Linked DNA regions of Homo sapiens: region 1 is linked to region 2. A link means that fine-mapping ties the variant in region 2 to the expression of a gene that starts in the linked region. Tissue or cell type: whole blood. Region 2 holds a variant in brackets; the other region holds the start of a gene. All regions are shown on one strand. Distances are from middle to middle.

Region 1 (10,350 bases), 27 kb before region 2:
GGGCGTCGTGGTGCATGCCTGTAGTCCCAGCCACTTGGGAGGCTAAGGCAAGAGAATCGCTTGAACTCAGAAGGCAGAGGTTGCAGTGGGCTGAGATCACACTACTGCACTCCAGCCTGGGCGACAGAGTGAGACTCTGTCTCAAAATAAATAAATAAATAAAAAATATAAAACAATACAGTAAATCAAGTGCAGTGGCATGCATCTGTAATCCCAGCTATTCAGGAGGTTGAGTCAGGAGGATTGCTTGAGCCCAGGGGTTTGAGTCCAGTCTGAGCAACACAGCAAGACCTTGTCTCTAAAAAATAAAAAATAAAAGAAAATAAATACATTTTGAAATTTAAAAAAGTCAATACACTGGCCAGGCGAGGTGGCTCACGCCTATAATCCCAGCACTTTGGGAGGCCAAGGCGGGCAGATCACCTGAGGTCAGGAGTTCGAGACCAGCCTGGCCAACATGGTGAAACCCCATCTCTACTAAAAATACAAAAATTAGCCAGGTGTGGTGGTGGGTGCCTGTAATCCCAGCTACTTGGGAGGCTGAGCCCAGAGAATCGCTTGAACCTGGGAGGCGGAGGTGGCAGTGAGCTGAGATTATGCCACTGCACTCCAGCCTGCGGGACAGAGCAAGACTCCCTCTTGAAAAAATAAATAAATAAAAAAGGAAAAGGAAGAAAAACAACTGTTTAAATTGTATTAGGTATTATAAGTAATCTATAGATGTTTTGAAGTATACGGGAGGGTGTGCATAGGTCATATGCAAATAATATGCCATTTATGTAAGGGACTTGAGCATCTATGCCTTTTGGTACCCAGGAATTGCCTGGCACCAATCCCTAGCAGATACTGAGCAAGGGACAACTGTATTTCCAATTAGGGAGATAAGTCAAGATTTTACAAAAGTGGTAGTATTTGAGTTGGCTCTCGTAAGAATTTTGAGTGAAGATGCACTGAAAGGGCCAATCCAGATAAAAGGAAGAGTGTGAACTGAAGCTGGAAAGTGCGTCCTGTGTTCAGGAGATGACCACATCAATTTCTTCTAATAGAGACAAATGGGGTCAGATAGCTGCAGTCTTTGAATGCCATACTACTGTCTGAACTTCATTCTCTAGTCTGTGGGGAGTCATCAAAGTTTATAAGCAGGAGTGTGACAGACCCGGAATTGAATTTTTTGGAGACAGAGTCTCGCTCTGTCACCCAGGCTGGAGTGCAACAGCGTGATCTCAGCTCACTGCAACCTCCACTTCCTGAGTTCAAGCAATTCGCCTGCCTCAGCCTCCTGAGTAGCTGGGATTACAGGCATGTGCCACATGTAACCACACCCAGCTAATTTTTGTATTTTTACTAGAGATGGGGCTCATGCCTGTAATCCCACCACTTTGGGAGGCTGAGGCGGGTGGATCACGAGGTCAGGAGTTCAAGACCAGCCTGGACAAAAATCACCTTTTATAGAATGGATTGGAGGCAAGAACACCCAGTTAGAAGCCTATGGTAATAGACCAAGTGAAAGGTAATAAGACACATAGTGGAAATAAATAGGAAGATATATATGAAGACAGGCTCACCATGACTTGATTTTTTAAAAATTGCAGGGGCTAAAAGAAAGGAAATAGACAAAAGATACCGAGCCGAGATGTTTGGGAAGATATTAATGTAATTAACAGAGAAAATCACAAGGGAGAAAAAAGCAGGTTTGGGAGTACAGGCATAACTTGGAGATATTGCAGGTTCAGTTCCAGACCACCATAATAAAGTGAATATCACCATAAAGCAAATTGCTCGAAATTTTCGGTTTCCTGGTACATAAAAAAAGCTATGTGTTTACACGATACTGTAGTCTAGTGCATTATTTCTAGTTTGCATTATTTCTTTAAAAAAATTTACATGCCTTAATTTAAAATGCTTTTTTTTTTTGAGACAGAGTCTTGCTCTGTCACCCAGGCTGGAGTGCAGTGGCGCGATCTCAGCTCACTGCAGCCTCTGCCTCCTGGGTTCAAGTGATTCTCCTGCCTCAGCCTCCCGAGCAGCTGGGACTACAGGCGCCCGCCACCACGCCCGGCTAATTTTTTGTATTTTTAGTAGAGATGGGGTTTCACTGTCTTAGCCAGGATGGTCTCCATCTCCTGACCTCGTGATCCGCCCGTCTCAGCCTCCTGCAGTGCTGGGATTACAGGCGTGAGCCACCGCGACTGGCCTTAAAATACTTTATTCTAAAAATGCTAATGATCGTCTAAGCCAAGTCATAATATTTTCACTGATGGAGGGTCTAGCCTTGATGTTGGGGGCTGCTGACTGATCATGGTGCTGATTGCTAAAGGCTGGGGTGGCTGTGGCAATTTCTTAAAATAAGACAACAATGAAGTTGTTTTCATTCTTCCTTTCATGATATTGATTGATTCTTCCTTTCATGAAAGATTTCTCTGTAGCATGCAATGCTGTTTGATAGCATTTTACCCATAGTAGAACTTCTTTCAAAGTTGAAGTCAATCCTCAAACCCTGCAACTGCTTTATCGACTAAGTTTATGGAATATTCTAAACCCTTTGTTGTCATTTTGGCAATGTTCACAGCATCTTCACCAGGAGTAGATTCCAGCTAAAGAAACCACTTTCTTTACTTATTCATAAGAAGCAACTCTTCATCCATAGTTTCATCATGAGATTGCAGCAATTCAGTCACATCTTCAGGTTCCACTTTTTTTTTTTTTTGAGACAGAATCTTGCTCTGTTGCCCAGGCTGGACTGCAGTGGCGCGATCTGGGCTCACTGCAACCTCTGCCTCCCGGGTTCAAGCGATTCTCCTGCCTCAGCCTCCCAAGGCTCCACTTCTAATTCTAGTTCTCTTGCTACTTCCACAGCATCTGCAGTTATTTCGTCCATGAAGTCTTGAACCCCCTCAAAGACATCCAAGAGGATTGGAATTAACTTCTTCCAAACTCCTGTTATTATTGATATTGACCTCCTCCCATAAGTCACAAATGTTCTTTTTAAAATTTTTTTATTAAATATATTTTTACTTTTTTTTTTTTGAGACACAGTCTTGCTCTGTCACTCAGGCTGGACTGCAGTGGCACAATCTCGGCTCACTGCAACCTTGGTCTCCCAGGCTCAAGCAATCCTCCCACCTCAGCCTCCCAAGTAGCCAGGTGCATGCCACCACTCCTGGCTAGTTTTTGTATTTTTTTATAGAGACAAGGTTTTCTATGTTGCCCAGGCTTGTCATGCACTCCTGAGCTTAAGTGATCCACCCACGTTGGCCTTCCAAAGTGCTGGGTTTACAGGTGTGAGACATCTCACCAAGCCAAGTCACAAATGATCTTAAGGACATCTAGAATGGTGGTGAGTCCTTTCCAGAAGGTTTTCGATTTACTTTGCCCAGATCCACCAGAGAAATCACTATGTCTGGCAGCTATAGCCTTATGAAATATTTTTTTTTTTTTGAGGCGGAGTTTCACTCTTGTTGCCCAAGCTGGAGTGCAATGGCACGATCTCAGTTCACTGAAACCTCCGCCTCCCAGGTTCAAGTGATTCTCCTGCCTCAGCCTCCTGAGTAGCTGGGATTACAGGCATGCGCCATCATGGCCAGCTAATTTTGTATTTCTAGTAGAAACGGGGGTTTCTCCATGTTGGCCAGGCTGGTCTCGATCTCCTGACCTGGTGATCCGCCCACCTCAGCCTCCCAAAGTGCTGGGATTACAGATGTGAGCCACCGTGCCCGGCCTGAAATATATTTCTTAATAAGACCTGAAAGTCAAAATGACTCCTTGATCCATGAGCTGCAGAATGTCTGTTGTGTTTGCAAGCATGAAAGCAACATTCATCTGTTTGCATACCTCCACCAGAGCTCTTGGGTGACCAGTTGCATTGTGAGTGAGAAGTAATATTTTGAAAGAAATCCTTTTTTTCCTGAGCAGTAGGACTTAAAATAAAACATACATAAAACGGTGAACTTAAAATACTCAGTTAACCATGCTATAAACATATATGCTGTCATCCAGGTTTTGTTGTTCCATTTATAGAGCACAGGCAGACTATATCTAACATAATTCTTAAGGGCTCTAGGATTTCAGGGATGTAAATGGGCACTGGCTTCAACTTAAAGTCACCAGTTGCATTAGCCCCTAACATGAGAGTCAGTCTGTTCTTAGAAGCTGTGAAGCCAGGTATTGACTTCTCTCTAGCTACAAAAGTACTACTTGGCATCTCCTTCCAATAAAAGGCTGGTTCATATATATCAAAAGTCTGTAGTTTAGTTTAGCCACCTTAATCAATTACCTTAGTTAGCTCTTCTGAATAACTTGCTGCGGCATCTACATCAGCACTTGCTGCTTCCACCTTGCACTTTTAAGTAACGGAAATAGCTCCTTTCCTTAAACCTCACGAACCAGCCTCCGCTATCTTCCACCTTTTCTTCTGCAGCTTCCTCACCTGTCTCAGCCTTCATTTTATTGAAGAGTTAGGACTTTGCTCCAGATTAGGCTTTGGCTTCAGGGAATGCTGTGGCTGGTTTGATCTTCTATCCAGACCACTCAAACTTTCTCTATATCAGCAATGTCTGTTTCACTTTCTTATCATTTTTGTGTTTACTGGAGTAGCACTTTTAATTTCCTTCAAAAACTTTTCCTTTGCATGCACAACTTGGCTAACTTTGGTGCAAGAAGACTGGCTTTCATCCTGTCTTGGCTTTCAACATGCCTTTTTCACTGAGCTTAATCATTTTCAGCTTTTTATTTAAAGTAAGAGATGTGTGACTCTTCCTTTCACTTGAACCCCCACTGTAGGATTGTTAATTGGTCTAATTTCAATATTGTTGTATCACAGGAATAAGGAGGCAAGAAGAGAGGGAGAAAGGCAGGGAGACTGCTGGTCTGTGGAGCAGTTAAAACATCCACAACATTTATGAATTAAGTTTGCCATCTTATATGGGCATGGTTCATGGTGCCCCTAAACAATTATAATAGTAATATAAAGGATAACAGATCAGCATAACATATACAATAATTATGAAAAAGTTTGAAATATTGTGAAAATTACCAAATGTGGTGCAGAGACACATAGTAAGCCTGTGCTGTAGGAAAAATGGCGCAGATAGATTTGGTTCCATGCAGAGTTGCCACAAACCTTACATTTGTAAAAACAGTTACCTGGGAAGCGCAATAAAGGAAAGTGCGAGCCTGTAGCAGATGCACGTTCCATTTAGACATCCTTAGGACTCACACCAGCGAAGGGCCCCAGCTTTTCCATACCAGTAGCTGTAATTCTGAGACGAAAGTGCTTTTCCCCCACCTTTACACCTTGCTTTCTGGAAAGATAAGACCATAATGGATTTTGAACTTGCTTTTATCATTAAAGCCCAGTGTCTTACATTTCTCCGGAAAAGGAAGCAGTGTTTGCTATGGAACAAATAGTAGAATTTTAATACATAGTCCCCTGACCGTAGAAACTGAACCTCAGGTCCTATCCTGGCTCTAGGCCACCCGGTCATGGAAGAAGAAACTTTTCTTAGAATCTTTATCTCTTGAGACAAGCTTGGAAATTACAACATATATGTACCATGAACGCGAAGTACCTGAGCTCAAAGCAGTTGAGCAATCTTAAGTGGGGGTGCCCGAAAGTGGTGCGTTCTGACCCCAAACGTCACACTACCCGTCCCTGGAGGAGCGGGTTGCAGCCCAGCTGCGTCGCCCCGCGCAGAGCTCCAGGCAGAAGAAAACTACATTTCCCAGAGACCTCTGCGCGGTCGGGAGCACCGCGAGGAGGGGCGAGATGGGGGCGGGCCTCTGTGTGAAGGCCCTTCCCATTGGTGCGCATTCCAAAGGGCCATGTAAACTTCTTCGCGATTGCACGGATTCAGGGACGCTCAGTGGCGCCGCGCCGCTCCTTGGTTTGACTTTTGTTTTTCAGTTGCGTTCCCTGACTCGGAGTCTTAGTGTGTCGTGAGTATAGAGTTTCGGGTTTGGGGTGAAGGGGTTAGGTAAGAAGCCTTGGGAAGAAAATCTGGTTAGGGAGAAGTAACTGCGGAAGCAGTGCGGAGGAGAGGACGTGAGCCTGAATGTGGTGTCCGTGGAGGGGCTGGGGACCGGAGGAGGAAAGCTCCAATGTGCAAAGGGAGAGACCTCAGGAGTGCTGGAGCGTTGGGACCTGGAGCAGTGAGGCGGTCGAGAATGGGATGAAGTGGGAAAAGGAGTACGGGATTCGGGCGCCCTGGAGATGCGTTCCGGTGTACTCTAACCCCACGCTGGTCTAGCTCTCAGTTTCCTCATTTGTGAAATAAGGGATAGTGAAAATACTGAACGGTTGTTGGGATAATAAATTGTACAGATTTGTCACGTGGCTAAAAGAAAAAAATTCAAAGTGCTACACAAATGTTAATTGTTAGTAGACAAGCTATAAGAATATATCTAAGCAAGGGTATTGGAGATAGGTGCAGAGACCCTAGCTGAAACCCGTTAATTTACCTATAAACAAAGGCATTGTTCCTTTGGAAGAGGCAATGAAGAGTAAGACGCGATTTCTGTCTGTAGGGAGCGCACGCTAGCATGGGAGAAACGATAGCAATAAAGCACTCTAATATGTTGACTTGTAGATAATTTCAAAGGCAGTTCTTTTGCACTTAGATCATTTTTGCTAAATCATTTTGGATGGGGAGACTCAGGAAAGAGAAAAAGGAGGTGGTATTTAAGATGAGTTTTCATGTACAGACTAGATTTTGTTAAGTGAAATTATGAGGGTTGTGGAGGGAGTTGTGTTCCAGCTAGAGGGAAGCTCATGAACAAAGGTATGGAGGCAGGAAAGTTATCTGGAAACGGTACATTTAGGAGAGTAGAGAGAAATAAGGCAGGAAAGTTAGGTTTGGCCCTTATGTAGAAAGCCATGAATTCTAGGCTAACAAATTGGATTTAATGCTTTAGGCTATGAGGTGCTACTGATGTATTTTATTAAAGAAAATGGTCCAGGAGACGCAAGGAGTAGGTAGAACCGTTAAGGTGTTGTAATGGTGTGGGTAAGAAGTATTGAGACTCTGAATTAACATGGTCATTGTGGAGATAAAATATACAAGATATTCATATGGTTAGACAGGAGGTTCAGAAGAATGAGTGATCAAATGATGAATTTAAGTTGCCAACTCCCGGTTGCTTGGAAACGCTGAATTAGTAACTAAAATAGGAAAGTCAGAAGGGGCATGTTTGGATAAAAAGATGATGTGTTAGGTTTAGGAAATGTTAGCTTTGAGATGCTAAAAAAATACCTAACTTGAGTGATTTCTTTTTTAAGTTAAACGTTTCAAGTGCCAGTGGGACTATGGGTGAAAATGTCCACTACATTTTTGTTAATTCAAATCAAGAGGTTGAAAGAGATGTCGTTTATTTATTCAACATGTAATTGTTACTTACTGTATGCCATGTAGTGTTTTAGATGACAGAGTTAATAATAAAAACAGGAGGAATAATGATGTTCCCAAAGAAATGGTTAGAGGAAATGATAAAGAAACTTGAAGACAGAACCTCTGAGCCAAGGGAGTAAAATTGTCAATAATAATAATAGTCCACATTTACTGAGTGCTTATATATGTGTCAAACACTGTCCCTCGGCCTTATATCCGTACACCAACCTATGACATAGAAGTAACTGAAATTTAGAGAGGATAACTTGCCTGAGGTACACAGCTAATAAGAGGCAGGGCTTTGACTCAAACCCAAGTCTGATATCAGAGCCCACATTCTCAACTACAAAGCAATATTTATTTTTATTATTATTTTTTCCAGGTAAGGTCTCACTCTGTCACCTAGGCTGGAGAGCAGTGGGGCAATCTCAGCTCAGTGCAGCCTCTGCCTCCCAAGCTCAAGCAATCCTCTGCCTCAGCCTCCTGAATAGCTGGGACTACAGGCACGTGCCACCACTCCCAGCTAATTCTGTAATTTTTGTAGAGACAGGGTTTCACCATGTTGCCCAGGCTGGTCTCAAACTCCTGACCTCCAGCAGTCCATTCACCTTGGCCTCCCAAAGTGCTGGCATTACAGGCATGAGCCACTGTGCCCAGCCTATTTTAATTGTTTTTTGAGACAGGGTCTTGCGCTGTTGTCCAGGCTAGAGTGCAGTGGCACGATCACTGCTCGCTGCAGCCTTGAACCCTCAGGCTGAAGTGATCCTCGCACCAAGCAGGTGGGACTACATTGCCACTGTGCCCAGCTAATTTTTAAAATTTTGGTAAAGACAGGGTCTTGCCATGGCCTGGCCATGCCAAGGTCCGGTCCCAAAGTGATATATTTTTAAAGGGTAGTTGGCACTACCAGGCACAGTGGCTCACGCCTGTAATCCCAACACTGGCAGGCAGAGGTGGGTGGATCATCTGAGGTCAGGAGTTCGAGACCAGCCTGGCCAACATGGCGAAACCCTGTCTTTACTAAAAATACAAAAAAAATTAGCCACAGTGGCAGGTGCCTGTAATCCCAGCCACTGGGGAGGCTGAGGCAGGAGAATCACTTGAACCCAGGAGGTGGAGGTTGCAGTGAGCCAAGATCGTGCCACTGCACTCCAGCCTGGGCTGAACAGAGTGAGACTCTGTCTCAAAAAATAAATAAATAAATAGGTAGTTGGCACTATCTAATTAAGAATACAAGTGAAGGAGTAACTATTGGATGGAGGAGGATAGAAACAGAAAAGAGCAATTGAATTTATTAATTTGGATGTCTGCTGACCAATAAGAGCTTGGTTAGATGTCATAGTAGAAGCCCGAGGCCTGGCTCAGTGGCTCATGCCTGTAATCTCAGCACTTTGGAAGGCCAAGGGAGGAGGATTGTTTGAGTCCGGGAGTTCAAGGCCAGCCTGGGCAACATAGCAAGGCCCCGTCTTGCAGCCAGAGAGGTGAGTGTAGACAACTTTTCGTAGACATGTGCAACAGTGAGGACAGTCACTATGAAGGAGAAGAGGGATTGCAGGTTGTTAGAAGGGTCTTTCAAAGCTTCAAATTACTTTTTTTTTTTTTTTTTTGAGACGGAGTTTCGCTCTTGTTGCCCAGGCTGGAGTGTAATGGCGCGATCTTGGCTCACCACAACCTCCGCCTCCCAGGTTCAAGCAATTCTCCTGCCTCAGTCTCCTGAGTAGGTGGGATTATAGGGATGCACCACCATGCCCAGCTAACTTTGTATTTTTAGTAGAGATGGGGTTTCTCCAGGTTGGTCAGGCTGGTCTTGAATTCCTGACCTCAGGTGATCCGCCTTCCTCGGCCTCCCAAAGTGCTGGGATTACAGGCAGGAGCCACTGTGCCCAGCCGCTTCAAATTACTCTTAAATGGCTTTGAAACAGTGAAATTTAACTTTAAGTTGTCACCCATATCCGTACAATGGAATTTTATTCAGCCACAAAAAGGAATGAAGTACTGATACATGGTACCACATAGGTGAACCTTGAAAACATTATGCTAAGTGAAACAAGACAGTCACAAAAGACCATATACTATGTGATTCCATTTATAGGAAAGTCCAGAATAGGGAAATCTGTAGAGACAGTAGGTTAGTGGTTGCTTAGGACTGGGAGACAGGGATAATAGCTGAAGGACACAGGGTTTTTTTCTTGAAGTGACGAAACTTCTAGAATGGACTGTGCTGATAGGTACACGTATCTGTGAATATACTAAAAATCATTGAATTTACACTTTGAATGAGTTTAATGGTGTACACAAATTACATTCCATAAAGCTGCTTTTTTAAAAAAATGTTACCCATAATCCTTCCATGCCAATCCAATAACTTTATTTTCTAGGTTATTTGGACAAGAGGCACATTGACCCAATTTGGAGACGTATTTTGGAAGGAGGTGAGTTTGGAGGAGGAGAGTAGTCTTTTAAAGGAGAGAATTAGAAGAAAGATGGCGTATTTGAAGGGTTGGCTGTAGAAGAAAACAAATGGGATGAGAGAAGCAGAAACAGATTTTTAAATCTAGATTGAATAGACTGGCCAGCAGAAGAAAAGGATGTTTAACAGTCTTTCAAATTCATATTGAGAGTTGTATATATATACATATACACTTAGTATGAGCCAGGCACTGTTTATGTTACTAGGGATACAGCAGTGAACATAATAGATAAAAACCCGCTGCCTTTAGTGAGTTTGCATATTCCAGTGTGGAGAGACAGACATTAAATATTAGATGGTTATAAGTGTTCAACTTTTTTTTTTTTTTTTTTTTAAGAGAGGGTCTCACTCTGTCACCCCAGCTGGACTGCAATGGCGTGATCATGGCTCACTGCAGCCTTGATCCCCCGGTGCAGGCGATCCTCCTACCTCGGCCTCCTGTTTAACTAGGACTACAGACATGTGCCACCACATCTGGCTAATTTTTTGTAGAGACAG
Region 2 (11,145 bases):
AGTGCGCTTCTGTGTGTGTGTGCTGGGAGTGAGAGGGTAAATACACACATAGCAGCACACTCCATGTTCCATTACAGTGCACTTCTGTGTGTGTGTGCTGGGAGTGAGAGGGTAAAATACACATAGCAGCACCCTCCATGTTCCATTACAGTGCTCTTCTGTGTGTGTGTGCTGGGAGTGAGAGGGTAAACACACATAGCAGCACCCTCCATGCTCCATTACAGTGCTCTTCTGTGTGTGTGTGCTGGGAGTGAGAGGGTAAAATACACATAGCAGCACACTCCATGCTCCATTACAGTGCTCTTCTGTGTGTGTGTGCTGGGAGTGAGAGGGTAAATACACACATAGCAGCACACTCCATGCTCCATTACAGTGCTCTTCTGTGTGTGTGTGCTGGGAGTGAGAGGGTAAAACACACATAGCAAAAAGTTCACCATTTTAGCCATCTGAAGTGTACGGTTCAGTGGCATTAAGTATATTCACGTTGTTGCACAACTGTCAACATCATTGAACTCCAGAACATTTTCATATTCCTAAACTGAAATTGTATACTCATTCAACAGTAACTCCCACATCCCCGTTACCCCAGTTCCTGGAACACACTATGCTACTTTTCGTCTCCATGAATTTGACGATTTTAGGTGCCTCACGTAAGTGGAATCATACAGTATTTGTTATGCTTATTTCACTCAGCGTAATGTCTTCAAGGTTCATCCATGTTGTAGCATGTGTCAGAATTTTCTTCCTTTTTAAGACTGAACAATATTCCATTATATGTGTGTACCACATTGTGTTTATCCATTCATCCACCAGTGGAGCTCAGCTCACTGTAACCTCCGCCTTCCAAACTGAAGCTGTCCACCCACCTCAGCCTCTTGAGTAACTGGGACTACAGGTGTGTGCCAACATGTCTGGCTAATTTTTTTTGTAATTTCTGTAGAGACAGGGTTCTGCCATGTGGCCCAGGCTGGTCTCCAACTTCCAAGCTCAAGTGATCTGTCTGCCTCAGCCTCCCAGAGTGCTGGGATTACAGGTGTGTGCTACTGTGCCCGGCTGAGACCTTACTTTTAATTCTTTTGTGTATATACCCAGCAGTAGATCACATTGTAATTCTGTTTTTATTTTTTTGAGTAACTGCCATACTATTTTCCATAGTGTTTATACCATTTTATATTCCCACCAGCAGTGCACAAGGGTTTCAGTTTCTCCACATCCTTGACAATACCTGTTATTTTCTTTTTTTTTTCTTTTAAGCCTTTTTTTTTTTTTTTTTTTTTTTTGAGACAGGGTCTCACTCTGTCACCCAGGCTGGAGTGCAGTGGCATGATCTTGCCTCACTGCAGCCTTTACCTACCTCCTAGGCTCAGGTGATCCTTGCACTTCAGCCTCCAAGTAGCTGTGACTACATGCATGTGCTGCCATGCCCAGCTAATTTTTATATATATATATATTTTTTTTTTTTGTGGAGACAAGGTTTCACCATGTTTCCCAGGCTGGTCTCAAACTCCTGAGCTCAAGCAATCCTCCTGCCTCAGCCTCCCAAAGTGCTGGGATTACAGGCATGAGCCACCATGCCTGGCCAACACTTGTTATTTTCTGGGTGTTTTTTGTGTTTTTTGTGTTTTTTTTTGTTTTGTTTTTTTTTTTTTTTTTTTGAGACAGGGTCTTGCTCAGTCACCCAGGCTGGAGTGCAGCGGCATGATCACAGCTCACTGCAGCCTCAACCTCCCAGGCTCAGATGATCCCCCCAACCTCAGCCTCCCAGTTAGTTGGGACCATGGGTGCGCACCACTGTGCTTGGCTAATTTTTGTATCTTTTGAAGAGATGGGGTTTCCCCGTTTTGCCCAGGCTGGTCTCACACTCCTGGGCTCAAGCGATTTGCCCACCTTGGCTTCCCGAAGTGTTAGGATTACAGGCGTGAGCCACTGTGCCCAGCCTTATTTTCTGTTTATTTGATAGTAACCGTCTTAATGGGTGTGAGGGAGTCTCATTGTGGTTTTGATTTGCATTTTTAAATGTTGAGCATCTTTCTTGTGCCATTTATATATCTTCTTTGGAGAAATGTCTATTCAAATATTTTGCCCATTTTAATAATTGGGTTGTTTTTGTTGTTGAGTTGAAGTTCTTTTTTGTTGTTGAGACAGGGTCTTGCTCTGTCGCCCAGGCAGTGGCGTGATCACGGCTCACTGCAACCTTTGTCTGCTGGGCTCAAGCTGTCCTCCCATGTCAGCCTCCTGAGTAGCTGGGACTACAGGCATGTGCCACTACACCTGGCTAATTTTTGTATTTTTGGTAGAGTCAGAGTTTCGCGATGTTGCCCAGGCTGGTCTCAAACTCCTGAGCTCAAGTGATCCTCACCTCACCCTCCCAAAGTGCTGGGATTATAGATGTGAGCCACCGTGCCTGGCTATAGAAGTTCATTATATATTCTGGATATTAAACCTTTGTTAGATATACAGATGCATGCAAATATTTTCTCCTGTTCCATAGATTGCCTTTTTATTTTCTCCTCTTTTTTTTTTTTTTAGGGGCAGGGTATCACTCTGTCGGCCAGGGTGATCCTCCTGCCTTAGCCTCTGGAGTAGCTGGGATTATAGGCATGCACCACTATGCCTGGCTAATTTATTTTCTTTTTTTCATTTTTTTGTAGAAACAGGGCAGATCTCACTATATTCCTTAGGCTGGTCTTGAACTTCTGACCTCAAGTGATCCTCCTGCTTCAGCCTCCCAAAGTGCTAGGATTACAGGAATGAACCACTATGCCGAGCCAGGAGTTTTTAATTTTTATGAAGTTCAATTTATGTATTTTTTTATTTTGTTGCTTCTGCTTTTGGTATCACATTCAAGAAATCATTGCCAGATTCATTGTCAGGAAACTTTTCTCCTATGTTTTCTTCTGAAAGTTTTATTATTTTAGCTCTTACGTCTAGGTCTTTGATCCATTTTTAGTTAATTTTTGTATACAGCATTAGGTAAGGTTCCAACTTCATTATTTTGCATGTGGATGTCCAGTTTTCTCAACATCATTTGTTGAGAAGACTTAGCCACATGGTTTCTTTCTTTTTTTTTTTTTTTTTAATTTTTATTTTGAGACAGGGTCTCCCTCTGTCACCCAGGCTGGAATGTAGTGGCACGATCTCGGCTCACTGCAACCTCCACCTCCCAGGCTCAGGTGATCCTCCTGCCTCATCCTTCCAAGTAGCTGGGACTACAGGCACGAGCCAACACACCTGACTAATTTTTGTATTTTTTGTAGAGACAGGGTTTTTCCATATTGCCCAGGCTGATCTCGAAGTCCTGAGCTCAAGCAATCTGCCCTCCTCAGCCTCCCAAAGTGCTGGGATGTCAAGCGTGAGCCACCGCACCCAGCCTCGCCACGTGGGTTTTTGGTGTCCCACGGTCAAGTGCTCCGTTTTTAGCAGGATCTACTAGCATGGCAGAAGCTGGTTTTCAAATGTTGTCATTCTCAGCTGTAGACAGCATGGTCTCGCTCCAGATTCTCAGAGGGTCTGTTAGGATTCTTGTCGTGGTGCTTGCCGTAAACTCCACCTGGTACCTTGTGCCACCACAGACACCATAGGATCCGCCAAATGATGTCCCAAGCAGCAGAGCATCCTTTCAACTCTGGGCCACACCGAAAGCTCGCCTTCCATGTCAGTTGATACATAGGTCAGAGCAGTATTCCAAAATGCGGAGTATGTTGTCTCCAGAACCTGAAGTCTCCTTTCGGGCATTGTGCTTCCTTCTTGGTGGTAGCATGTACCAGGTGAAATAATTTGATCTTTACATCGGAGGGAATATCCTGGGATACCTGGATCACAGCCTTAAAAACTTCACTCATGTGCTTCGTAAGGTTCATCTGCAACCCTCCCGAGCACACGTATCTTACCACGTGCACTTGCTGTTTCTTGTTCATGCCGTCTGATTTAACGCGATATCATCAGTAGTGAGCTACTGGCCATCTGTGGAGTAGCCAGATCCAGATTCTTTTTTTTGTTTTTGTTTGTTTGTTTGTTTGTTTTTGAGATGGCGTCTCAGTCTGTCACCCAGGCTGGAGTGCAGTGGCGTGATCGCAGCTCACTGCAACCTCCGCCTCCCAGATTGAAGTGATTCTCCTGCCTCAGCCTCCCGAGTAGCTGGGACTACAGCGCACGCTATCACGCCCAGCTAATTTTTGTACTTTTTAGTAGAGATGGGGTTTCACCATTTTGGACAGGCTGGTCTCGAACTCCCGACCTCGTGGTCCACCCGCCTCGGCCTCCCAAAGTGCTGGGATTACAGGTGTGAGCTACCGCGCCCAGCCCAGATTCTTTTATACTGTATTGACAGAAAGTAAAAGCGTTAACATGGCCCTGGGAAAGACTATAAAAGCACACTGCTGTCCATGTCACATGATGTGAACTGCCTCTGGTCTTTTGAGGGGTAGGAAAGAATCCATTTGCCTAATTAGTGGCCACTTACCATGTGCCTGAGACTAAGTAATTCTCTTCTAGCAAAGGTGCTACATCTGGCACAATGACTGAAATTGGGACCTACTGGGTAGTAGTCTACTCTTATCTTCCAGAATCCATCTGGTTTTGTATGGGTCATACTGAGGAATGAAATGAGGCTTTCATAAGGACCTCCACCTCTGCATTCTTTAGGTCTTTATTGATCGTCTTGACTGGGTAGGGAGGGGCAGTTTCTGAGGCTTTCACTTAGCTTGCCCCAGAAGCCAAGAAGCTAATTTGGAGGTACTGTCCCCCACCTAGTATGTCCATTTTAAGCATTTGGGAACTGAAGAAATGCCCATTGATTTGGTGGATCCAGTAGACCTGCTGTGAGTTGGACGTGGGCCACAATTCCATTTATTCCATGGTCCCCACGTGCCCCAGTGCCATGATGATGCTTCACGTTATCTGGTGTCGGTGTCAGCTTAGACCCTGTATCCAGCAGTCCTTAAAATGCCCAGGTCTTTCCTCTTCCCCAGTATACAGTTACTTGAATAAATGGCTATAGACCCTTTGGAGGATGTGGGGAATCATTACCATGAATATCTACTCTGTGGTGTCGCAGGGTCTTACCTTCTAGGAGTTCCAGCCTCTTCTTTAGGTAATTGTCTCTAGGACTTAAAACTGACTTGGGGCTGGTAATCCCAGCACTTTGGGGTGGCTGAGGCGGGCAGATCACGAGGTCAGGAGTTCAAGACCAGCCTGGCCAACATGGTGAAACCCCATCTCTACTAAAAATACAAAAATTAGCTGGGCATTGTGGCATGCGCCTGTAGTCCCAGCTACTCGGGAGGCTGAAGCAGGAGAATTGCTTGAACCCAGGAGGCGGAGGTTGCGGTGAGCTGAGATCATGCCATTGCACTCCAGCCTGGGCGACAGAGCGAGACTCTGCCTCGGAAA[GA/G]AAAAAAAAAACGGACTCGGGCCTGAAAAACGAGTCAGAGATTGTGATTTTGTTTGGGGTGCAGCCCTCAGCCTCTTTTCCATCTTTGACTTATCTTTTATTGTTTGAGCTATACTCTGTTGACTACCCATCTACCTTGCTGCTAGAAACGCCACGTTCTGTAAACCATCTCCATATCAAGTCGCTCTGAAATCCCTTTTTATGTTGTTTTTTTTAATTAATTAATTTTTTTTTTTTTTTTTGAGACAGAGTCTTGCTCTGTCGCCCAGGCCAGAGTGCGGTGGTGCAATCTTGGCTCACTGCAAACTCCACCTCCCGGGTTCAAGTGATTCTTGTGCTTCAGCCTCCTGAGTAGCTGGGATTACAGGTGCACGCCACCACGCCCAGATAAATTTTGCATTTTTAGTAGAGACCAAGGTTTCACCATGTTGGCCAGGCTGGTCTCGAACTCCTGACCTCAGGTGATCCGCCTGCCTCAGCCCAAAGTGCCGGGATTACAGGCATGAAACACCACACCCGGCCCGAAATCCCTTTTTAGCGTTTGCTTCCTTGGCCCAGTCCAGACCTAAGCTATCTTAGGTTGAGTTCTCTGGGAAACAGACTGTACAGTGGAGATTTGCTTGCAGGAATTTTATTGGGAAGTGAGGGAACTTAAACTGGGATTCAGTTGCAGCAGGCCTCGTCCAACACGATAGGGATCTCTGAAGCTGGGATGGCTCTTCAGAGATATCCTGAACTGAGCAAGGGGATTGGATTTTTGTGTTTCCTCATTGACCAGGCACTGGATATGGGCTGTCCCTGAGGAATGAGAGGCAGAAACTTGGGTGAGGCAGTTCCCTTGTCTGGGGATTCAACTACAAGCTATCAGCAGGCAGCATTCCTGGCAGTTGGCAGAATGAGCCCATCAGCCCCGAAGAGCAAGATCTGAGCAGTAACCCTCAGCAGCCACTACCATTCCCTTTTAGAATTAGCTAAGAAGTGGCCGGGCGCAGTGGCTCCCGCCTGTAATCCCAGCACTTTGGGAGGCCGAGGCAGGCAGATCACGAGGTCAGGAGATCAGGACCTTCCTGGCTAACACAGTGAAACCCTGTCTCTACTAAAAATACAAAAATTAGCCGGGCATAGTGGCGGGCGCCTGTAGTCCCAGGTGCTCGGGAGGCTGAGGCAGGAGAATGGCGTGAACCCGGCAGGCGGAGGTTGCAGTGAGCCAAGACCGCACCATTGCACTCCAGCCTGGACAACAGAGCGAGACTCTGTCTCAAAAAAAAAAAAAAAAAAAAAAAAAAGAATTAGCTAAGAAGTGCCCTGGCCCCTTTTCTCTGAATGGAAATACCTGATGTTTTACGAAGTAGAGCTGAAGTCTAGATACAAACTATTCAATTTTAATTTGAGGTTACTGTTTTAATTTGGGGTTACAATTGTTTTAAAAAAAAAATAGAAGGGAGATCCTTTAAACAGAAAAAGGTTACTTACTTGGGACATTTAATAATATGTGCTTGCTTTCCATGAGAATTGCAGGGAGCTAGAAGACAAGAAAAAGATTCAGAATCTCTTGGCTCTTGTGGGAACAGATGCTGGAGAAGTGACCTATTTTTGTAAGGAGCCTCCTCACAAAGTAAGTAATCTTTGGTGTAGCATGGTGAGTGTGGCTTTACAAGTCACAGGCTAAGGCCCATCATCAGAAGAACTTTAGTATCCGCTGGAGAAGGCAGATGGAGAATTAGCCATCACAGTGCCTTGTTTGCCTGAGTTTTTAAAGCATTTTTCTTCGAAAACCTTGGGAAGTAGCATTATTTACCCCATTTCAATGTTTAGAAACCTGAAGCACAGAGGGGTGGCTGTTTTAGCTGAGACAGAGAGGAAAGCAGGAGCAGACTATGTGTGGGAGCAAGTTTTGATGCTTAAGTTTCTTTTTAAATCTTTGTTTATACTGATTACAAATGTAATCCATGGTCTTTATTAAAAACAAACACAGAGTATAGTAATCTATCATATAAAAGTGGCAGGTTCTCATAATCCTATACCCCAGAGATAATCCATTAGTAATAGTTTGGTGTATATACTTCCATCTCTTTCTTCATTCCTATAGAAATAGTTATGTGTCTGTGTATACTATTTCTATTTTTTCACTTCTATAAACAGTTCCTGAGCATTTTTATACATATCTGTATACGTATACTTCTGTTTTCTAAAGGTCCTTGGCCAAGAGCTACTTTTTTTTTTTTTTTGAGACAAAGTCTCATTCTGTTACATAGGTTGGAGTGCAATGCGCAATCTCGGCTCACTGCAACCTCCGCTCTGGGGCTCAAGCACTCCTCCCACCTCAGCCTCCCAAGCAGCTGGGACTACAGGTGTACACCACCACGCCCAGCTAATTTTTGTATTTTTTGCAGAGATGGGGTTTCACCATGTTGCCCAGGCTGGTCTCGAACTCCTGAGCTCAAGCAGTCCGCCCACCTTGGCCTGTCAAAGTGCTGGGATTACAGGCATGAGCCACCACACCCACCAAAGAGCTGCTTTTAAAAAAACAATAAAAATTTTAAAAAAATTTTAGAGCTGAGGTCTTGGTATGTTGCCTAGGCTGGACTCACACTTCTGGGCTTAAGCACCATCCTTCCACTGTAGCCAGCCTTCCAAGTAGCTGGAACTACAGGGGTGCACCACTGTGCCCCAAGCTGTTTTTGTTTTTGTTTTTAATCATATATTACTAAATAGCCCTGCAATTTTGTTTATTTATTTATATTTATTTATTTATTTTTCAAGATGGAGTTTCGCTCTTGTACACCAGGCTGGAGTGTAATGGTGCAATCTCGGCTCACCACAACCTCCGCCTCCCAGGTTCAAGTGATTCTCCTGCCTCAGCCTCCTGAGTAGCTGGGATTACAGGCATGTGCCACCACGCCTGGCTAATTTTGTATTTTTTATAGAGATGGGGTTTCTCCATGTTGGTTAGGCTGGTCTTGAACTCCCGACCTCAGGTGATCCGCCCACCTTGGCCTCCCAAAGTGCTGAGATTATAGGCATGAGCCACCGCACCTGGCCTTATTTTTATTTTTTTAGAAACAAAGTCTCATTTTGTTGCCCAGGTTGGAGTGCAGTGGAGTGATCATAACTCACTGCAGCCTTAAGCTCCTAAGCTTAAGCAATCCTCCCACCTTAGCCTCCTGAGTAGCGGGGACCACAGGCACATGCCACCACACCTGGCCTACCTTTTTAAGTTTATATTGTCAACACAGGGTTTTATCCAGTTTGCTACTTTGCCTGTGTGGTCTGTCATGTGCATGACATCCTTATATGATCATATCAGTTTTGACTAATTTAACTTCTAGTGTTCAATCTGCAGAACTAAGGCTGAAAAGTAAAATATTACGTTTATAGGAAGGCTACTTCAATACCAGTTTTTGCTTCTTCAGGTCACCATTCTCCAAAAGACTATCCAGGCTGTAGGTGAATGTGAGCAGAGTGAATCTTCAGCTTTCAAAGCAGGTAACAACCATATAACCTATTAGAAATTCTCATCAATGCAGAATTGAAAATCACAGTGCAGGCTGGGCGCGGTGGCTCACGCCTGTAATCCCAGCACTTTGGGAGGCTGAGGTTGGTGGATCACCTGAGGTCAGGAGTTCGAGACCAGCCTGGCCAACATGGCAAAACCCCATCTCTACATAAAATACAAAAAACTAGCCGGGTGTGGTGGCAGGCGCCTGTAATCCTAGCTATTTGGGAGGCTGAGGCAGGAGGATTTCTTGAACCTGGGAGGCGGAGGTTGCAGTGAGCTGAGATCGTGCCATTGCGTGACAGAGCAAGACTATCTCCAAAAAAAAAAAAAAAAAAACAGAACACACAATTGGAAATGTTTTCCTACTGTACAGTGATAATTGATGTTCATAATGATGCCTTTGGTGGTCTAATGTCTTAATGAGCTTCTTGAATCATCCAAGGAATTAAATTTTGCTCAGTTCTTTTTTTTTTTTTTTTTTCTTTTGAGATAGAGTTTTGCTCCTGTTGCCCAGGCTGGAGTGCAATGGCGCGATCTTGGCTCATTGCTGCCTCTGCCTCCCAGATTCAAGCGATTCTCCTACCTCAACCTCCTGAGTAGCTAGGACGACAGGCATATGCCACCACACCTGGCTAATTTATTGTATTGTATTTTACTTTGTGTAGGAAGGGGTTCTCACTATGTCACTCAGGCTGGTTTTGAACTCCTGGCTTCAAGTGATTGTCCTGCTTTGGCCTCCCAAAGCACTGAGATTACAGGCATGAGCCACAACACCTGGCCTTATTCTGATCGAATAGGATTTACTAAGAAAATAGACACAACTATTTTAGTGGTTGATTCTAAGGAAAATTTAGTGGTTGATTCTGCCAGAAGATGAATATGATTATTTAGGTGACATCCTGCAGAGTTCCCTTATAGAGATTCCTATTTGAAAAGTTAAGCACTATGATTATGATGTTTCCCTTTGTCTTCCGAATCCCTTCATTAGTGAGAACCCCTTCATTACCCTTACAGGTAAATGAATCTGAACTCCTCTGCGTGGGAAATACTGATATTTCAATAGCACACAGAAAAGCTGAGTAAAATCTTCTTGATGGATTTTGTTTTCTATTTTAGATCCTAAAATAAGCAAAAGAAGACCATCGAGAGAGAGAAAAGAAAGTTCTGAGCATTACCAAAGAGACATACAGACACTCATCCTACAGGTAAAGAATGTATTTTGGCAGACCAAGATGGCTTTTATCCACAGGTGCAGCTCTATGTCACATACCCTCAGTGTCATGTGATAAGTATCTCCTTGCACACAGGTTACATCTAAGCATCATGTGGTTAAGAAAATTGAGATTGTTCCTAATTTCTAAGAGCTTATATTTTGAAACCATCCTTTTCTATTTGAACATTCTTAAGGTGCTACTCTGAACCTTCAATTCAATATACTAAGCCCCATCCACCAAAACCATTACAAGGTAAGAATTCACTGGCCTAGGGATATGCAGAGATTGCAGAGGGAAGCTTGTCTATGCTGATAGATCAACATTTGATGGTATATTCATTTATTTAGTGCTTAGGTTCCAAAGTCTAGGAAAGTAATGAACTGTTCTCTTACCTCCTGGTTATGTGTCATTTGGAACCATGATTTTTCATCTAGTTGCACTAAAGTTTCTGTCCTTACTGTGTTAAATCTCTGTTGATTTAAATGACAGTTTCTACCTTTGGCCAGTATCTCCATGTGGAGTCATGACAACCAGACACAGAGAAGGAAATTACATTATATTCATTTTGCTCTGCTTTTTGAAACCAAAAACTAAGAAAAGAGTCATTTTGCTTCTGTGCAGGAAGGGTGTCTTAAAGGGAGACAGTCAAGGGAGATAGTGAAAAGGCAAAAATCACAGGGTGAGAAAACTGGATTTTGTAGCTTTGTTTGTGTGTTGTAGATGCTGGGTTTCGTTTGGACAAAGAATCTACTCTTGTATAGCCTAACCCCATTTATAAGACATTAAGAGGAACTGGGCTGGGCATAGTAATGCCTGTAATCCCAGCATTTTGGGAGGCCAAGGCGAGTTGATTGCTGGAGCCCAAAAGTTCGAGACCAGCCTGGACAACATAGTGAGACCCCATCTCTACAAAAATTAAAAATGAAATTAGCTGGGTGTGGTGGTACACACCTGTAGTCCTGGAGGCTGAGGCAGGGAGGACTGCTTGAGCCCAGGGGGTTGAGGCTGCAGTGAGCTATGATCACGCCCACTGCACTCCA

What was found. PIP is the estimated chance that this variant, and not a neighbour inherited with it, causes the effect.
Region 1: CCDC77 starts here. The variant in region 2 is fine-mapped to the expression of CCDC77 in whole blood (INTERVAL, PIP above 0.99).

What each region holds. Positions count from the first base shown.
Region 1 is chr12:395,751-406,100 of GRCh38, forward strand. It overlaps CCDC77 (coiled-coil domain containing 77), which reads left to right and starts at 5,894. Exons shown (of 13, transcript NM_032358.4): 1 at 5,894-5,934; 2 at 9,761-9,814. It overlaps LOC105369594 (a long non-coding RNA gene), which reads right to left and starts at 5,660. Exons shown (of 4, transcript XR_007063149.1): 1 at 5,568-5,660; 2 at 5,143-5,300. RefSeq lists enhancers at 5,418-5,737, 6,152-6,704.
Region 2 is chr12:421,859-433,003 of GRCh38, forward strand. CCDC77 (coiled-coil domain containing 77) reads left to right here. Exons shown (of 13, transcript NM_032358.4): 6 at 6,911-7,007; 7 at 8,806-8,878; 8 at 10,008-10,096. Among named protein-coding and RNA genes, the nearest start is that of CCDC77, 26 kb to the left of the region's middle. The variant GA/G (reference allele first, on the strand shown) is at 5,392.